Regions from separate parts of the Homo sapiens genome. Here region 1 is linked to region 2. The links come from fine-mapping of genetic effects on gene expression. A gene starts in region 2. The other region holds a variant in brackets. All regions are shown on one strand. Distances are from middle to middle.

Region 1 (8,318 bases), 27 kb before region 2:
AGTTTGGATGGCTGTGTATCGGTAGAGAAGGGAATTTTTTTTTTTTTTTTTTTTTTTTTTGAGATGGAGTCTTGCTCTGTCGCCAGGCTGGAGTGAAATGGCGCCATCTCAGCTCACTGCAACTTCTGCCTCCCGGTTTCAAGTGATTCTCCTGCCTCAGCCTCCCAAGTAGCTGGGACTACAGGCGTGTGCCACCACGCCCAGCTAATTTTTGTATTTTTAGTAGAGACGGAGTTTCACCGTGTTGGCCAGGATGGTCTCAATCTCTTGACCTCGTGATCCGCCCTCCTCGGCCTCCCAAAGTGCTGGGATTACAGGTGTGTGAGCCACCGCGACCGGCCATGGAGGGATCTTTTTTGGCAGTCCTATTAGCTCTTAAGTTTTCCCTTTTAGGGAGGAAAAAGCTCCGCATGTCCCACGATCCTGTACTTGCCTAATCCTGTCACCCATAGCCGTCAGCAAAGAGTACAAGGCAGATTAATCCCAAGAGAATAGCAGTTAACATCCCGTAGTGCCAAACCCATTCTTAACCGGGAGGGATTTTACCCAGAGGGGCCTCTAACCCTCTAAATATTAGAAGGGACTGTAACCCTCCCCAGTTGGGCCTCTATCCCAAGGTCCATCAAGCATCCTTGCCTTTTATTAAGAGAGGCCTCTAATTCCCCTAAGCTGGGCCTCTAACCCAATCCCATTATTTACCCGGGTATATGCACCCCACTTACCCACAGTCCGCCAGTCAGTGCTGCAGCCTATTTCCTTCTGGTCGGGGGGTTTCTTCAGTATTGTCCCTTCCATGGCTCACCAGAAAGATATTACCAGACCCCACCACTTACCAAAAATTAGCCTTTGGGTCGGGGGTTTCCGCACTATCATCCCTTCAGTGGTCGCCAGAAAGATGTTACAGGAAAGGAGTCCTGATCCAGACCCCAAGAAAGGGTTCTTGGATCTTGCACAAGAAAAAATTCAGGGTGAGTCTATAAAGTGAAAGCAAGTTTATTAGGAAAGTAAAGGAGTAAAAGAATGGCTACTCCATAGACAGAGCAGCCCTGAGGGCTGCTGGTTGCCCATTTTTATGGTTATTTATTGATGATATGCTAAACAAGGGGTGGATTATTCATGATGCCCCCTTCTAGACCACATAGGGTAACTTCCTGACATTGCCATGGCATTTGTAAACTGTCTTGGCACTGATGGGAGTGTAGCAGTGAGGACGACCAGAGGTCACTCTCATTGCCATCTTGGTTTTGGTGGGTTTTGGCTGCAACCTGTTCTATCAGCAAGGTCTTTATGATCTGTATTTTGTGCCGACCTCTTTTGTCATCCTGTGACTTAGAATGCCTAACCATCTGGGAATACAGCCCAGTAGGTCTCAGCCTCATTTTACCTAGCCCCTATTCAAGATGGAGTTGCTTTGGTTCAAACGCCTCTGACACAACCACGTCCTCCCTCTCCCCACCCATGAGAAGTCATTGGCTGCTCAGACCCTGATGGGGCTGGAGGCAGTGAGCCCAGTGATGTGGGTGTGAATTCAAGGCATGGGGTCTTTTGGGGTCAGGCCATGGGGTAGTGGCAGTAGCCACCATGCTAAGTACCAGCTTCTAGAGGTAGATGCCACACCAGCCCCCTTGTTTCCTTTCATCCCACAACAAGCCTATGAGAACAGGACTATTTTTTCAGGTCCATTTTTTTTCAGACGAGTAAACTGAGTCACAGAGAGCTTAAGTGACATGCTAGTTTATGTATCTGTATGAGTTTCCTGGGCTGCTGTAACAAAGTGCATAAGTGCATACTGGGTGTCTTGAACAATGTAAATATATTCTCTCACAGTTCTGGAGGCCAGAAGTGTGAGATCAAGGTGTGGGAGGGTTCCTTCTGGGACTGTGAGGAGGAATCTGCTCCAGCCTCTGCCCTCGCTTCTGGTGATTTGCTAGTGAACTCTGGCATTCCTTGGCTTCTGCAGCACCTGAACCTCTGCCTTCTCTTTTCCATACCATTCTCCCTGTGTGTGTCTGTGTGTGAATTTCCCCTTTTTAGAAGGATATTGCCTGGAACAGTGGCTCACACCTGTAAACCCAGCACTTTGGGAGACCAAGACAGGTGGATCACCTGAGGCCAGGAGTTTGAGACCAGCCTGGCCAACATGGTGAAACCCCATCTCTACTAAAAATATAAAAAATTAGCTGGGCATGGTGGTGCGTGCCTGTAATCCCAGCTACTTGGGAGGCTGAGGCAGGAGAATCGCTTGAACCCAGGAGGTGGAGGTTACAGTGAGCTGAGATCACACCATTGCATTCCAGCCTGGGCAACAAGAGCAAAACTCCATCTCAACCTGCAACCTGCAAACCTGCAACTTGTTTTATCAGCAAGTCTTTTTTATCATCTCAAAAAAAAAAGATACTAGTTATATTGAATTAGGGACCCATCCTGCTCCAGTATGACCTCATCTTAACTAATTACATCTGCAATGACCCTGTTTCCAAATAGTGTAACAGGCTGAGGTGCTGGGGGTGAGGAGTTCAACATATGGATTTGGGGGCGGGGACACACAATTCAACCCATAAACACATCTAATAAGTGGATAGCTGGGATTCTAATGCCATTTCCACCTCTCAGTTGAGCCCTGTCGGCCCCTTCCCCTGTTCATTCTCCCCACCAGGAGGGTCACATCCAGTGCCGCCAGCGAGAATGTGCCAGCCTGTGTCCATACCCAGCCCGGCCCCTCCCAGGCACCTGCTGCCCTGTGTGTGATGGTGAGTCAGTGGGTAGGGCAGAGGCCTGACCATGGTGGGCAACCTGGAGAAAATTGATGGGTGGCCCTGCTCGGGGGCCCATGAAGGCCAGGAGAGGGTGGGGAGGGGCCCCTGAGGAACATCTAAGGCCCCCCTTCCCAACAGGCTGTTTCCTAAACGGGCGGGAGCACCGCAGCGGGGAGCCTGTGGGCTCAGGGGACCCCTGCTCGCACTGCCGCTGTGCTGTGAGTGTGGCTGCCTGGCAGGGAGGGCCTGGCTCCGGGGCCTGCCTCTGGCGTGCTGACCAGGCCCTGTTGGCAGAATGGGAGTGTCCAGTGTGAGCCTCTGCCCTGCCCGCCAGTGCCCTGCAGACACCCAGGCAAGATCCCTGGGCAGTGCTGCCCTGTCTGCGATGGTGAGTGGGGGCCGGGGTCTCTGCGGGAGGGGCAGGCCTTGGCTGCAGAGAGGCTGTAGGTGTGGGGGATTTGCTTCTCTTGGACCTAAGCCCCTGTTACCCTGTTCCCAAAGTGAGTCCTCACCACACCTTCTCATGGCAAACTGGCACCATGCTGGGGCCTGCGCTTCTGTGGCATAGCTGTGGGGGGCAGGGGGCTGCTGGCAGGGCGCCCTGGAGAACTCGGCTGGGTCTTCTTTGTCAGGGTGGGGGTTGGACACCTCAGGGTGACGTGAAGCTTCCCCTCTGCCTCCAGCCCTATACCCCCACGCCCCTGTCATCCCATCCAGGCTGTGAGTACCAGGGACACCAGTATCAGAGCCAGGAGACCTTCAGACTCCAAGAGCGGGGCCTCTGTGTCCGCTGCTCCTGCCAGGTAGGCGGTCCCTCCGCTCACAC[C/G]CAGATCTGCCTCATTCCTTCAGGGTGTCTCACCTGCTTCCCTCCTAGGCTGGCGAGGTCTCCTGTGAGGAGCAGGAGTGCCCAGTCACCCCCTGTGCCCTGCCTGCCTCTGGCCGCCAGCTCTGCCCAGGTGTGTGTGAGAGGGGGAGGAGCAGCTGCTATGGGCGCTGCCTCTGAGGGCTGCAGAAGGAGGGTGCTCCTTCCCAGGACGGGGTACGGGTTGCTAAGTCCACTAGCCATTCTACAGTGTCAGCGGGGATGGCGAAGGTGGGGTCCCTGTGTCCTGGGAAGGACAGGGATGGGTGGGAGGTGTGTAGGCTGCCATGTGACAGCCCCCTTACTACAGCCTGTGAGCTGGATGGAGAGGAGTTTGCTGAGGGAGTCCAGTGGGAGCCTGATGGTCGGCCCTGCACCGCCTGCGTCTGTCAAGATGGGGTACCCAAGTGCGGGGCTGTGCTCTGCCCCCCAGCCCCCTGCCAGCACCCCACCCAGCCCCCTGGTGAGTGCCTGGGCTGATCCTGGCTTTCTTCCCCTGCATTACCCAGCTCACCCTGACCAGCCTGCCCCACCCAGGTGCCTGCTGCCCCAGCTGTGACAGCTGCACCTACCACAGCCAAGTGTATGCCAATGGGCAGAACTTCACGGATGCAGACAGCCCTTGCCATGCCTGCCACTGTCAGGTAACTGCCCAGCCTTGCTGCTGCCCTGCTGAGCCCCTCCTGGGCATGCCCCGATTGCTCTCTCCCCTGCTCTCTCGCAGGATGGAACTGTGACATGCTCCTTGGTTGACTGCCCTCCCACGACCTGTGCCAGGCCCCAGAGTGGACCAGGCCAGTGTTGCCCCAGGTGCCCAGGTATGTGGGCACTCACTGGGCCTGAGGGGATCAGGGCCCCAGAGGCTGCTGTCCCACAGCCCCATGGGCCCAACAGGTACCTTAGAAAGCAATGGCCTTCTGAATTGTTTCAGTCTTGTTTCAGAGCTTAGAACTCTCTGGAACTCACGGGGTGTGGGTGGGAGGGAGAGTAGAGAGATTTGTTTATTCCTGCCTGTACCTACACCACCCTCTCCTCCCATGCTCCATTTCCTCTTCTAGTAACTACTGCCCCCCGCCCCACCACGCTAGGGCCCCCACCCCCCTACCCCCCAGGTAAACCCATGTATCTACCTGGATAACACAGGTTCATGAGCAGGCACTTGAGCCTGCCACGTAGGAGGCCGGGTGCTGGGATGCATGGGACACGTCCCTGCCCGCATAGAGAGTCTGTGTGAGGGCGTGTGTCAAACACAGGTACACACATGTGTAAGCACTCCCCTTCTTCCCCTCAGAGACACACATCTGCCTGCAGGTGAATGACCCCCAATGCGCACGCACACTCGTGTGTGCTCACAACGATACACATGCCTGCACACATGTGCACATGGCCACTTCCTCCTCTTTCCCCTCGAGTCAGCTTCCAAGTGGGCACTTGTGTGGCGGCTCTGGACTCCAGGGCTGGAGGGACTGTCAGGCTTTGCCCTCATACCTGCCCCCACCATCCACTGCCCAGACTGCATCCTGGAGGAAGAGGTGTTTGTGGACGGCGAGAGCTTCTCCCACCCCCGAGACCCCTGCCAGGAGTGCCGATGCCAGGAAGGCCATGCCCACTGCCAGCCTCGCCCCTGCCCCAGGGCCCCCTGTGCCCACCCGCTGCCTGGGACCTGCTGCCCGAACGACTGCAGCGGTGAGGTGGGCGGGTCAGGGCGGCCTTCTGGGATGGGATGGCATGGCCCCCGGAAGGCAGCACGCCCTGGGGCAGTCGCCCTCTCCCAGGCTATAGCCCCTCCCTCCCCCAGGCTGTGCCTTTGGCGGGAAAGAGTACCCCAGCGGAGCGGACTTCCCCCACCCCTCTGACCCCTGCCGTCTGTGTCGCTGTCTGGTGAGTCTGCACCTGGGTGGGAGGCGCCCAGGGGAGTGGAGGCGGGACTTGCAGAGGCCAGGAGAGGCCCGCCCAGGTGGGAGGGGTGGGACCTGGTGGCACTGGGTGGGAGGGGTCTCCTCGGCCTCCCCCAACTAACCCACTGACCCGTGGTGCGTCTGTCGGTCCGTAGAGCGGCAACGTGCAGTGCCTGGCCCGCCGCTGCGTGCCGCTGCCCTGTCCAGAGCCTGTCCTGCTGCCGGGAGAGTGCTGCCCGCAGTGCCCAGGTAGGGGCCGCACCCCTCGGCTGCTCCTCCCTGGGGGTCCCCTCGGAGGCCTGTTCCTGGGCCCCTTTGATGCGCTGTCTCGCCGCAGCCGCCCCAGCCCCCGCCGGCTGCCCACGGCCCGGCGCGGCCCACGCCCGCCACCAGGAGTACTTCTCCCCGCCCGGCGATCCCTGCCGCCGCTGCCTCTGCCTCGACGGCTCCGTGTCCTGCCAGCGGCTGCCCTGCCCGCCCGCGCCCTGCGCGCACCCGCGCCAGGGGCCTTGCTGCCCCTCCTGCGACGGTAACGCCCTGGCGGTGCCCCTCCCGGCCACCCGCGTCCTGCCGCCCCGCCCCGCCCCGGAGCGCCCTGCCCAGTCCCCTTCCTCCAGGCCCGCTCCGCCCACGTCGGGGATCTTGTTAGGAATGTAGTGTCCGGTCAGCATGGCCTGGGAGCCAGCCGGCACGGCCCTCCATCCCCCACGGCCCCCAGCCCCCCACGACACCCATCCTCCACGGACCTCAGCCTCCACGGAGCCCACGGCCTCCCCGCCCTCACGGACCCCCAGCCCCCACGACCTCCAGCCCCCACGGCCCCCACGACACCCGTCCTCCACGCCCCTCAACCCCACGACCACCAAGTCCCCACAGCCCTCTAGTCCCCACGGCCCCCCAGCCCCTGCCCTTCTCCCCAGGCTGCCTGTACCAGGGGAAGGAGTTTGCCAGCGGGGAGCGCTTCCCATCGCCCACTGCTGCCTGCCACCTCTGCCTTTGCTGGGAGGGCAGCGTGAGCTGCGAGCCCAAGGCATGTGCCCCTGCACTGTGCCCCTTCCCTGCCAGGGGCGACTGCTGCCCTGACTGTGATGGTGAGGGTCATGGGATAGGGAGCTGCCGGGGTGGGATGCGGGAGACCAGAGGGCTGGGTCAGAATAATCTTTACTGCCCTAGGGTGGATCTAAAATATTTATTACAGTAAGAAAAAGCCCCGAGGCTGGGAGCCCTAGCTGAAGCCTGTGACCCCGACAATTTGGGAGGCTGAGGCAGGAGGATCACTTGAGCCCAGGAGTTCAAGACCAGCCTGGGCAACATAGAGAGATCTTGTCTCTACACAAAAAATTTAAAATCAGCTGGTCGTGGTGCCTCTTGTAGTTCCATCTACTCCGGAGGCTGAGGTGGGAGGATTGCCCAGGAGTTTGAGGCTACAGTGAACCGTGTTTTCACCACTGCACTCCAGGCTGGGTGACAGAGTGAGACCTTGTCTCAAAAAAAAAAAAAAAAAAAAAAAAAAGCCTGACACTAAAGCCTGGATCTTCTCCTGCCTCTGTTGCTATTTGCCGTGTGGTCTTGGGCAAGTTACATAGCCTCTCTGGGCCTAAATTTGGCTCTTGTAAAAAGACCCAGTCCCCCAGTCCCCCTGTCTTCCCTCACTCTTGTGCGATCTTGGCCATTTTGGCCACTTGCCCTTACCAACTGTAATTTTATTTACTATTTGCCTTCCAATTAACTCACTTATTAATTTAATTTGATTTAGAAAGGAGTTTTATATCACACTGTAAGTGGAAAATTAGACTTGCCAGGACCACATTACCATAAAAATGAATATAATTAAAATTATAATGTTGTTAAATCCTTGTCAGATACTTTTGCCCACCAAGGCTTTGAGCCTGAAATTCACCCTTCTTTTTTAAAAAGGGAGGTGAGCAAATGGCAGAGGTGCCAAGAGCGGGCTGTCACCACCCTGGGACCCCACCCCTTCCTGGATTCATCAGTGGGCTCGGAAGAGCGTGGGAAAGGCGCTACCTTGGGTCCACACCACCTGAGTCAGCTGGGGCTACTCCCAGCTCTCCGGGTTGGGAAACTGGTGCCTCTGGCAATGGCCTGCTGAGTATTTAACCCCAGGGGCAGCAGATTCCTTGTGGGTGTTTTTCTACAAATTAAACAGGAAGGTTTTTTGCAGGATAAAGGGGAGAAAGTTTGCCTTTTGGCCAATCCAAACCCCGCCCCCCTCACGACTGCTTTGCCCCCTGGGCTTGGCCTGTGACCCCCCAGCCCCCACGCTAGATCTTTGAGATCTTGGATGCATAACAGGCCCAAGCTCAGAGCCTATGACCACTGCCCTCTCATCCCTTTCTGTCCCTCCCCTCGGCCTCTCTGTCTCTTCTCTGAAAGGCTGTGAGTACCTGGGGGAGTCCTACCTGAGTAACCAGGAGTTCCCAGACCCCCGAGAACCCTGCAACCTGTGTACCTGTCTTGGAGGCTTCGTGACCTGCGGCCGCCGGCCCTGTGAGCCTCCGGGCTGCAGCCACCCACTCATCCCCTCTGGGCACTGCTGCCCGACCTGCCAGGGTAGAGCCACACCTGCCCTTCCATTCCCCCTGCTGGGGCTCCCGGGGTGCCTTTCTCACCGATTCCACTTTCCTCCCAGCCCTCCCACTGCCTGCCGCTCCACCATACTTTTCTCTCACTCTCCGACTCCCTCACCTTTGATAGAGGTCCCGGGCACGGCTGTGTGTTTGTATGTATGTGTGTGTGTATGTGTGGCTCTGTGTGTGTGTGGCTGTGTATGTGTGTGTGTCT
Region 2 (8,318 bases):
CCTGCGGGCTTAAGCGCGGCGCAGCAGGTGACGGCTCTGCAGCGGCTGCTGGAGCTGCACAGCGCGGCCAGGCGGCAGCGCCGCCGGCGGGACCGTGAGCAGCAGCGGCTCCGGGTGTGTCCCCACGCCGGGATCGGGGCCTGCCTGGAGCGGGCGGGGCACCGAGGGGCGGCCGGACGCTGACTGCCGCCTCTGCAGGTCCTGGAACGCCTCCACATCGCCAGGAACCGCCACTGCCGGGTTCACCCCGTGGGGCTCCCGCCCAGTCCGGCTCAACTCCCGCCACAGGCAAGACCCCTAGAAGGCGGTGGGGCCACAAGGAGCCTGCGCGGGGCAGGGGCCGAGCTTAGCGCGCCCGGGTCCCTTTGAAGTGAGCGCACTGCACTCTGGCAGTGACTCGGCGGGGCGCGAGGGGCAGGTGTGCCAGGTGCTGCCCCGCCCGCCCCACTGAGCCGCGGACGCTCAGCGCTCCGCACCGCCAGGAGGACGCGGCTGGGCGGCGGCGCGCCCTGCGGGAGCAGCTGGAGCAAATGCATCGGGAGAGGACGGAGCGGCTGCGGGCCCTCGGGGCCAGGTGAGGGGCGGGCAAGGAGGGGTGTGGCGGTGGCAGGAGGCCCCTTTCCCTGGCCTCCGAAATGACAAGCCGCTCTCTCCCCAGGAACACCCAGAACTTCCTGGAACTACTGTGTTCCCCTGGTGCTGAGGATCCCGTGCCTGCGAAGTAGTGCTCGCCCTTCCCAGCACCCTCTGGTCATTGCTGAGTCCTCAAAGGGATGATTAAAGTGATGAGGGTTACGGAAAAAGCAAGAGGGCAACTTGCAGGTCTGATAGTTTCAGAAAGGCCTGAATGCAACCTCAGGGACAGGGAGAGCAGAGGGGCACAGACACACACAGCAGCTTTGCCCCACCAGGAGGCCTGTTATTTCTTCTTCCCTCCCCTAAGCCCACACCTGGCCCACGGTCAGAGGGCCAGGTCTCGGGGATCAAGCAGTGCGAAGGCCCCGTTCTTGCGGAAGAATGACTCAATGCGGCACATCTTGCAGGAGACCAGTTCTTGCTTCACTGGGGGGCCTGGGAAAAGATGTCAGAGGCCAAGCATGGGTTCCTGAGGGAGGGACACGCAGAGCATGGGAGCCCTGTCTGTCTGCACAGCCCTAGGAATCCGTCAGTGGAGTAGCCACTTTGTGGGAAGAAATAGAAAGTGCTTTGGAGGAATGGGAGCTATGGGCAAATACTGGGAGCTGGCTGGATGCCAGGATACAGCAGCCATCTGCCATCATTACCCTAGCTTCAGGATCCTCTACCTGCAGGGAGGGGGGCCACCCTAGCCTGCTTGTCACAGGGACAGACTGTGGAGAGATGAGATTTCCTTCGGCCTCCTGCTCCCCGCTTCTAGGGCTCGCCTCCTGCTTTTGTTAGAAAGTTATTTCCCTGACTTCCCCTTTAGGGGCCTGGGGGAAAGGGATGTTTGGGGGCAAAATCTCAACTGAGTCAATCCCCAACCATCCACCTTTTCTGCAAGACACTCAAGCAGCTGGAGAAGGGTACAGGGCTGAGGAGTCTCACTTGACATTCATGAGCACAGACAGCAATGGGACGTGCAGCAACATCGCCCAGCAGCCCTGCCTGGCACATGCCTGTTCCACACCTTTCCTCTTCATCTCTAGTTACTCCACTGCCTCAGCTCAGCTCCCTCCCCGCTGATGGCCTTGACTCAACCTCACAGAAAAAAGACTCAGCCGAGATGGACAGGCTTCCTGCCAATGACATCCCCTACCCGCTCTGGCTCAGCCCTCCTGCCCCCACTCCCATCAGATTCCAGCAACTTGAGCTCCCTAGGAGATCTCATGGATTTAAATAGCACCTATAGGCCAGCCGGTGGCTCATGCCTGTAATCCCAGAACTTTGGGAGGCCGAGACAGGCAGATTACGAGGTCAGCAGTTCGAGACCAGCCTGGCCAATATGGTGAAACCCTGTCTCTACTAAAAAAACAAAAATTAGCTGGGCGTGGTGACACACGCCTGCAGTCCCAGCTACTCGGGAGGCTGAGGCAGAAGAATCTCTTGAACCTGGGAGGCAGAGGTTGCAGTGAGCCAAGATCGTGCCACTGCATTCCAGCCTGGGTGACAGAGTCAGACTGTTTCAAAAAGAAAAAGAAAAAAAAAAAGCACCTATATTCCAATGACCTCCGAATTTGCATCTTCAGCTCTGACTTCAATCCAGACTTATAGACACAGCCACCCTACAGACACTTCAAGCATAACATAGCCAAACACACATGGCTAAATAGGACCTGTTCATGCACGCTCCAGCCCTGACCTCTCCCAGTCTTCCCTGTCACTGCAGCTTTAGCTAAACAAACACCTGGGTGATTGATCTCTCTTCCCCTTATTCTCACATTCTATCCATGGGTGAGTTCCACCGAGTCTTCCCCCAAAACATCCTGAATTGATTTCAGCTCTATTGCTGATCCCTCAGGCCACTACCACAGGATAACCAAACAGATGCCCAACTCATGTGCCAGATTCTACCATTTCCCCTGAAAAAGCCACTGCCTACATACAGGTCAGGGTGACTTTTTAAAAGGTTCACCAGTGTCACTCTTGAAATCTGCTTAGAACCCTCCATCAGCTTCCCTGCACAACAAATAAAATCCAAACCCATCCTTATCATCTGGCTCTCAGCCTCGGGTCCTCAGAAAGGCCTTTCCTGACAATCCAATAAATAGCAGCACGTGGCCGCTGCCTCCCTGCCCACCGCCACTCCCTAGTTCTGTGGAACGTGTCGACACTTCTTGGCCATCTCCTTGCTCTGTTTATAGTCTGGACCCTTCACCAGGATGCCCACTCCCTAGCACATGGCTAGTGCTCTGTTTTTGAGGTGATTTCCAAGAGGTTGGGCTCACCCAGCTGCCAGCCATACGTGAAGCTGGTGGTGATGGGGAAGAGGTATCGCGTCTCTGGCATGTCCAGTTTTCGAGTGTTGAGGTAGCGGTACCGCCCCTGGAAGTCGTGGGAGATGCCTTCATACAGCAGGGCTCGGGTGATAGGTGGTACCGGGTACATTTCCGACTGAAAAGGCGCCTCTGGGACAGGGCTGGGCACCTTGGAAGGGGCTGACTTGGGGGCGGGTGGGGGTGAGAGTGGGGCTTTGGGGTGCAGGGTGGGCAGTTTGAGGGGCAGGCGGGCTGCAGCCTTAGCCTTCTGCTTGGCCTTCACCATCGACCCATACTTGCGGTACCATTCACAGCGCAACATCTTTTCCCTCAGATATTCCTCCTTCCAGAAGTTCTGCCGTAACGCGTCTATGTTGAGCTGCCGTGACATGGTGGCCAGGGAAGGAGTGGCACCAGGGTGGCCACAGCTGAGGGGTGAGCACAGCAAGCAGAGTGCTTCTGACGGCGAGTGGCTGCCCAGGCACAGTCACCTGGCAACCATGCCTCACCTCACACAGGGCCAGGGTTCTACTTGCCATGCCCCCAGCAGACCCCATGAGCCTGGCTTCCTGAGGCAGCCTGAGGCCAGGGCCCACTGGTTAAGAGCCCTGCTCCCCCCAAAACTCCCGCAGGGCCCTCGCGGGATCTGGCATCACAGACTCCCAGGTTTCGTGTGCTTTCTGCTTCTGTCCTTTGGATCTGGCCCCCTTCCCAGCCCAATGCCGAGCAAGGTGGGGGAAGCAGGAGCTGGGCTCAAGCCTCCTCCCATTCCTCCCCAGACCAGAGCTGGTCTTCTCTGATCCAAGGACCAGTCCTTGAGTTCTGCCTCCCGGCACAATCCTCCTGGGCCACCTCTTCTATGCCTGTCTTTGGCAGCACCTTTTCCATCCTTGCCAACCGAATCTGCCCCATGGCCTCACCCCACACATGTCCTTTCCAGCACCCAACCCATCTGGAGAGAAGCAAGAATATGACTTTAATTTAACATCAACAATGACACTGTGTAACAGCACAGGGAAGAGGTAGTGGAGGGAGATGGTCAGGCTTCCTGTTCCTTAACCAGCAGAGCCCCAGCAACCTAGAAGCGCCTCACCTAGCCTCTTAATGGAGTGGGAAGGAGCAGGGAATTGGAAATCAGAGGCTCAAAAAGTAAAGAAGGCTGATGGCAAGCCTGGGGAGAGGCCTGGAAACGAGGGAAGGGCTGAGGGCTATGAGGAGTCCCCTAGCGCAGGTCTTCGGCAGTGAACATGCCCCTGGCCCTGCGCAGGATGGAGTCCTTGGCGGCGTCATATGGGTGCTCCTTGGAGGGGATCTCCAGGACAGCGGGGATGGACTGCTGGTGGGCGTCCAGGGCATGCCGCACCATCTCTGCGATGTACTGGTTGATGAGGATGATGCCAATGTCATCCCGGTTTAGAAATTGCCTGTGGGGAGAGATGAGAAGGGAGTCCAGGACAGCTCTGGGGGCTGCCGTCTCTCCTACCCAGGCAGCCCTCTCCGAGTTGTTGGGCTGGGCTGTGGAGGGGAATGAGCATGACCCAGAGGGCACAGAGGACAAGGGGAAAGGCTGCCACGCTCAACCCTCTGTCAACCCTACCTAGAATCAATTTCATCCCAAAGCGGAGGGTCACGCTGATTAGGGTTGGCTTCTACAACACTGCCCGGAAGGCTTCCAAGTGAACTGGTAATGAAGATTGATTAGGGTGCACACTGGTGTATTCAATATGCAGTGATGTGTCAGAAAGGGGAAGGATAAGATTATATGTATGCAGATCCCTTTTTATGTGCAGATACTGAAGGCCAGCTGTGATGGCTCACGCCTGTAATCCCAGCACTTTGGGAGGCCGAGGCAGGTGGATTGCTTGAACCCAGGAGTTTGAGACCAGAATGGGCCACATAGTGAGACCCCCATCTCCCTCTCTCTCTCTCTCTCTCTCTATCTATATATACACACACAAAAAAATGGCTGGATGTGGCGGATCTATCTATCTATCTATATATATACACACAAAAAAAAAATGGCTGGATGTGGCGGCATGTGCCAGCTACTTGGGAAGCTGTAGTCCTAGCTATTTAGGAAGCTGAGGTGGGAGAATCACTTGAGCCTGGGAAGTCGAGGCCGCAGTGAGCTGCGATCACGCCACTGCAATCCAGCCTGGGTGACAGGAGTGAGACCCTGTCTCAGAAAAAAAAAAAAAAAAAGACACATTAACTTTTAAAAAGAAAACAAATTATTTAAAAATAGGGCTGATGAGACCACTGAAGGCCTCAAGGTCTATCCTGATGAGGGTGGTGGAGGGGTCAGAGGGAAAGTTTGGCATGAACTAAGATCACAAGCTAGGAAGAGGACACCTTGATGAAGGAATCACACTTTCTGCACAAAAAGAACCTGGCCTTGTGCTCCTTCTCTCCTGTGGTCACCCACCCATTCATTTGTTTATTTTATTTTTATTTTTTTGAGACAGGGTCTCCCTCTGTCACCCAGGCTGGAGTGCAGTGGTGGATCTCGGCTCACTGCAGTCTCCACCTCCCAGGTTCAAACAATTCTCCTTCCTCAGCCTCCTGATTTCTTGGGATTACAGGCACCCGCCACCACGCCTGGCTAATTTTTGTATTTTTAGTAGAAATGGGGTTTCACCATATTGGTCAGGCTAGTCTCAAACTCCCGAGCTCAGGTGATCCACCCGCCTCGGCCTCCAAAACTGTTGGGATTACAGGCGTGAGCCACTGCACCCAGACTCATTCGTTTATTTACTGATTAAAAATTACTTACTGAGCACCCACCCCCTGCCAGTCACTGGGTTAGATTTGATCTCTGAGGTCCCTTTTGGTTGGAAACATAAAAAATTCTTGAAGTAAAATTTGTCCTTCTCCCATGATAACTTGGGTCACTTTACCAGACAGCTTAGAGAATGGCAGATAACAGCCTCCCAGGTCAGGGACTACCTAATACACCAGGCAGCAGGAACCAGTCTCAGCCAGCAGCCCTGGGCTGGACTGTTTGGGGGAAACAGGTGAGTGGTTTATTCCTGAGACTTGGTACAGGGGCCCTGGAGAAGGGGTGAGGAATAAAATAGGAGGCTGGTATCCTTAATTCCAGTCACCAGGACCCCTGGTGGATTAAAAGCATGCCTGCACCCACACTCTGACCTAAGGCAGGCAGTGAGGGCTTGAGTGCAAGGTCTTAGCAGAAGGCTCTCACAGTCCCGACATTTCTGCCTACTGTGCTCAAGACTACAAGGAAATTCCGAGGCCGCCTGAGGAGACCTGCCAAGAGTGTGTACCTGGCTTACCGGAGGCAGAAAGGGTTGAGATTGGGTTCAAATTCTAGCTCTGCCTCTGCCGACTCGTAACTTTAGTGTGTGCCTTACCCTCTCCGAGCTTTAGTTTTCTCACCTGTGAGTAGGACAAAAATCATCCCTGCCTTACGGGACGATGGTGAGCCTCTAAAGGAGGAGAAAGCAGAACAAAGTCCAAGCCCACTGTCTAGGCTGTCACGAGCTCTGTTCCCCTTCTTTCATGACACACGATCATGTGAGGTGGGGGGGCTCGTGGACCTGATACAGCTTCTGTCCCACCGAGCCCCAAACGGGGACTTGGGGCGCGGAGGCCTCCGCTCCGGAAGGGCGGAAGGACTTTCAGGATCGTCCCCTCACCCCCGTCCGGGCAGCCTCCAGCCTCGCCCCGCACTCCACCGAGCAGCAGAAGGGCCCGTTCAGGCCTCGCGCGGTACCGTACCGGAAAGTGTCTTCGATCTCATTGATGGTTGTATCCTTCTCCACCACCAGGAAATTGGGATGGCGGTTCTTGTTAAGCTCCCCTATGCCGCCCAGCAGGAAACCAGTCACCGTGTCCTCGTCTCCGATCACTGCGATGAGCTTACCCCTCCCCGCCATCCCTGCAGCCGGGCAGAGCTCACCCTAGAGCACCAGAAGCCACTGAAACCCCGCCTCCGCCGTACGGCGCCCCGTCGGCCTCAACCCCCACCCTTCGAGCATGCGCAGTCCTCCCAGCCGCATTCCGGGACATGCGCATTAACAGCAACACGGCCTCCATGTGAATACGCCTGCGCCGTAAAGACAGGCCCGAACCAGGGGACTACGATTCCCAGAAGACCGCGCGGCACCACGTCCTTCGCGGGCATTCATTCGTTCATTCACTCGTTCCTTGGTTCATTCGTTCAACAAGCGCTTTGGACCTGACGCTGTTAGACGCCGAGACCCCAGAGAAGAGACGCAGTTACTCATCTCAAGGGCAGGGTCTGGGTCTTTATCGTGTATGTATGTGTGTAACTATGACACATAGTTAACAAGTAACACACGTTTGTTCAGTTAAAGGAATGCAAAAGTTAATGATGATACTGCCTAGTGAGGTGGAAAGTCAAGGGAACAGGCGACTACAAAGCTGTGTGTTAATGGTTAGAATGTGAAAAGTATATGGAAGCACACATCCATGGTAACTAACCCATGGAGAGAGGGGGCGTCCAAAGAACCCTTCCCCAAGAAGCTTGCTTCAGATCTAAGCTGAGACCTGAAGGACCTGCAGGATGAAGGGGATAGAAGTGAGGACAAGACGGTGTTCTAGGCAGAGGAACAGCATGTGCAAAGGCGTACTGACTAGAGAGCGTAGGGCCTTCAAGGAAAGTTAAATAATTGGTAAGGCCAGGCATGGTGGCTCACGCCACACCTGTAATCCCAGCACTTTGGGAGGCTGAGGCAGGTGGATCACCTGAGGTCAGGAGTTTGAGACCAGCCTGGCCAACATGGCGAAAACCCGTCTCTACTAAAAACACAAAAAATTAGCCGGGCGTGGTTGTGGGCGCCTGTAGTCCCAGCTACTCGAGAGGCTGAGGCAGGAGAATTGCTTCAACCCGGGAAGCGGAGGTTGCAGTGAGCCGAGATTGTGCCATTGCACTCCAGCCTGGGTGACAGAGCGAGACTCTGTCTCAAAAAAAAAAAAAAAAAAAAAAAAAAAAAATTAGCCAGGCGTGGTGGTGCACACTTATAGTTCCAGGTACTCGAGAAGCTGAGGCAGCAGGGCTTACTCAGGAGTTCAAGGTTACAGTGAGCTATGATCACGGCACTGCACTTAAACCTGAGCAGCAGAGCGAGACCCTGTCTAAAAAAAAAAAAAAAGGATCTGCAGGCTGGGCGCGGTGGCTCACGCCTGTAATCCCAGCACTTTGGGAGGCTGAGGCGGGTAGATCACCTGAAGTCAGGAGTTTGAGACCAGTCTGGCCAACATGGTGAAATCCCATCTCCACTAAAAATACAAAAAAAATTAGCCCAGTGAGGTGGTGTGTGCCTGTAGTCCCAGCTACTCGGGAGGCTGAGGCAGGACAATTGCTTGAACCCGGGCAAGGGAGGTTGCAGTGAGCTGAGA

Which allele goes with the higher level. Positions count from the first base shown, and alleles are read on the strand shown. Sizes are in standard deviations (SD) of each study's normalised expression.
In carriers of allele C in region 1, the expression in esophagus mucosa of the gene that starts at base 3,407 in region 2 tends to be higher than with G alone (large effect, 0.78 SD a copy in GTEx).

The links. PIP is the estimated chance that this variant, and not a neighbour inherited with it, causes the effect.
Region 1: its variant is fine-mapped to the expression of SPMIP1 in esophagus mucosa (GTEx, PIP 0.90).

Annotation. Positions count from the first base shown.
Region 1 is chr7:128,888,632-128,896,949 of GRCh38, reverse strand. It overlaps KCP (kielin cysteine rich BMP regulator), which reads left to right. Exons shown (of 40, transcript NM_001366122.1): 9 at 2,657-2,750; 10 at 2,895-2,974; 11 at 3,051-3,144; 12 at 3,474-3,559; 13 at 3,631-3,712; 14 at 3,929-4,081; 15 at 4,156-4,262; 16 at 4,343-4,436; 17 at 5,131-5,304; 18 at 5,417-5,499; 19 at 5,672-5,765; 20 at 5,854-6,045; 21 at 6,437-6,607; 22 at 7,911-8,087. LOC105375497 (a long non-coding RNA gene) reads right to left here and starts at 5,721. Exons shown (of 4, transcript XR_927958.2): 1 at 5,647-5,721; 2 at 834-974. RefSeq lists enhancers at 3,087-4,287, 5,237-5,827, 5,828-6,417, 6,418-7,008. The variant C/G (reference allele first, on the strand shown) is at 3,583.
Region 2 is chr7:128,861,419-128,869,736 of GRCh38, reverse strand. It overlaps SPMIP1 (sperm microtubule inner protein 1), which reads right to left and starts at 3,407. Exons shown (of 2, transcript NM_001195150.3): 1 at 2,907-3,407; 2 at 1-1,071. The coding sequence starts at 3,327. The coding sequence ends at 962. It overlaps ATP6V1F (ATPase H+ transporting V1 subunit F), which reads right to left and starts at 6,881. Exons shown (of 2, transcript NM_004231.4): 1 at 6,675-6,881; 2 at 3,890-4,360. The coding sequence starts at 6,832. The coding sequence ends at 4,159. FLNC-AS1 (FLNC antisense RNA 1) reads left to right here and starts at 7,111. Exons shown (of 4, transcript NR_149055.1): 1 at 7,111-7,212. RefSeq lists silencers at 1-299, 430-539 and enhancers at 6,588-7,077, 7,158-7,267.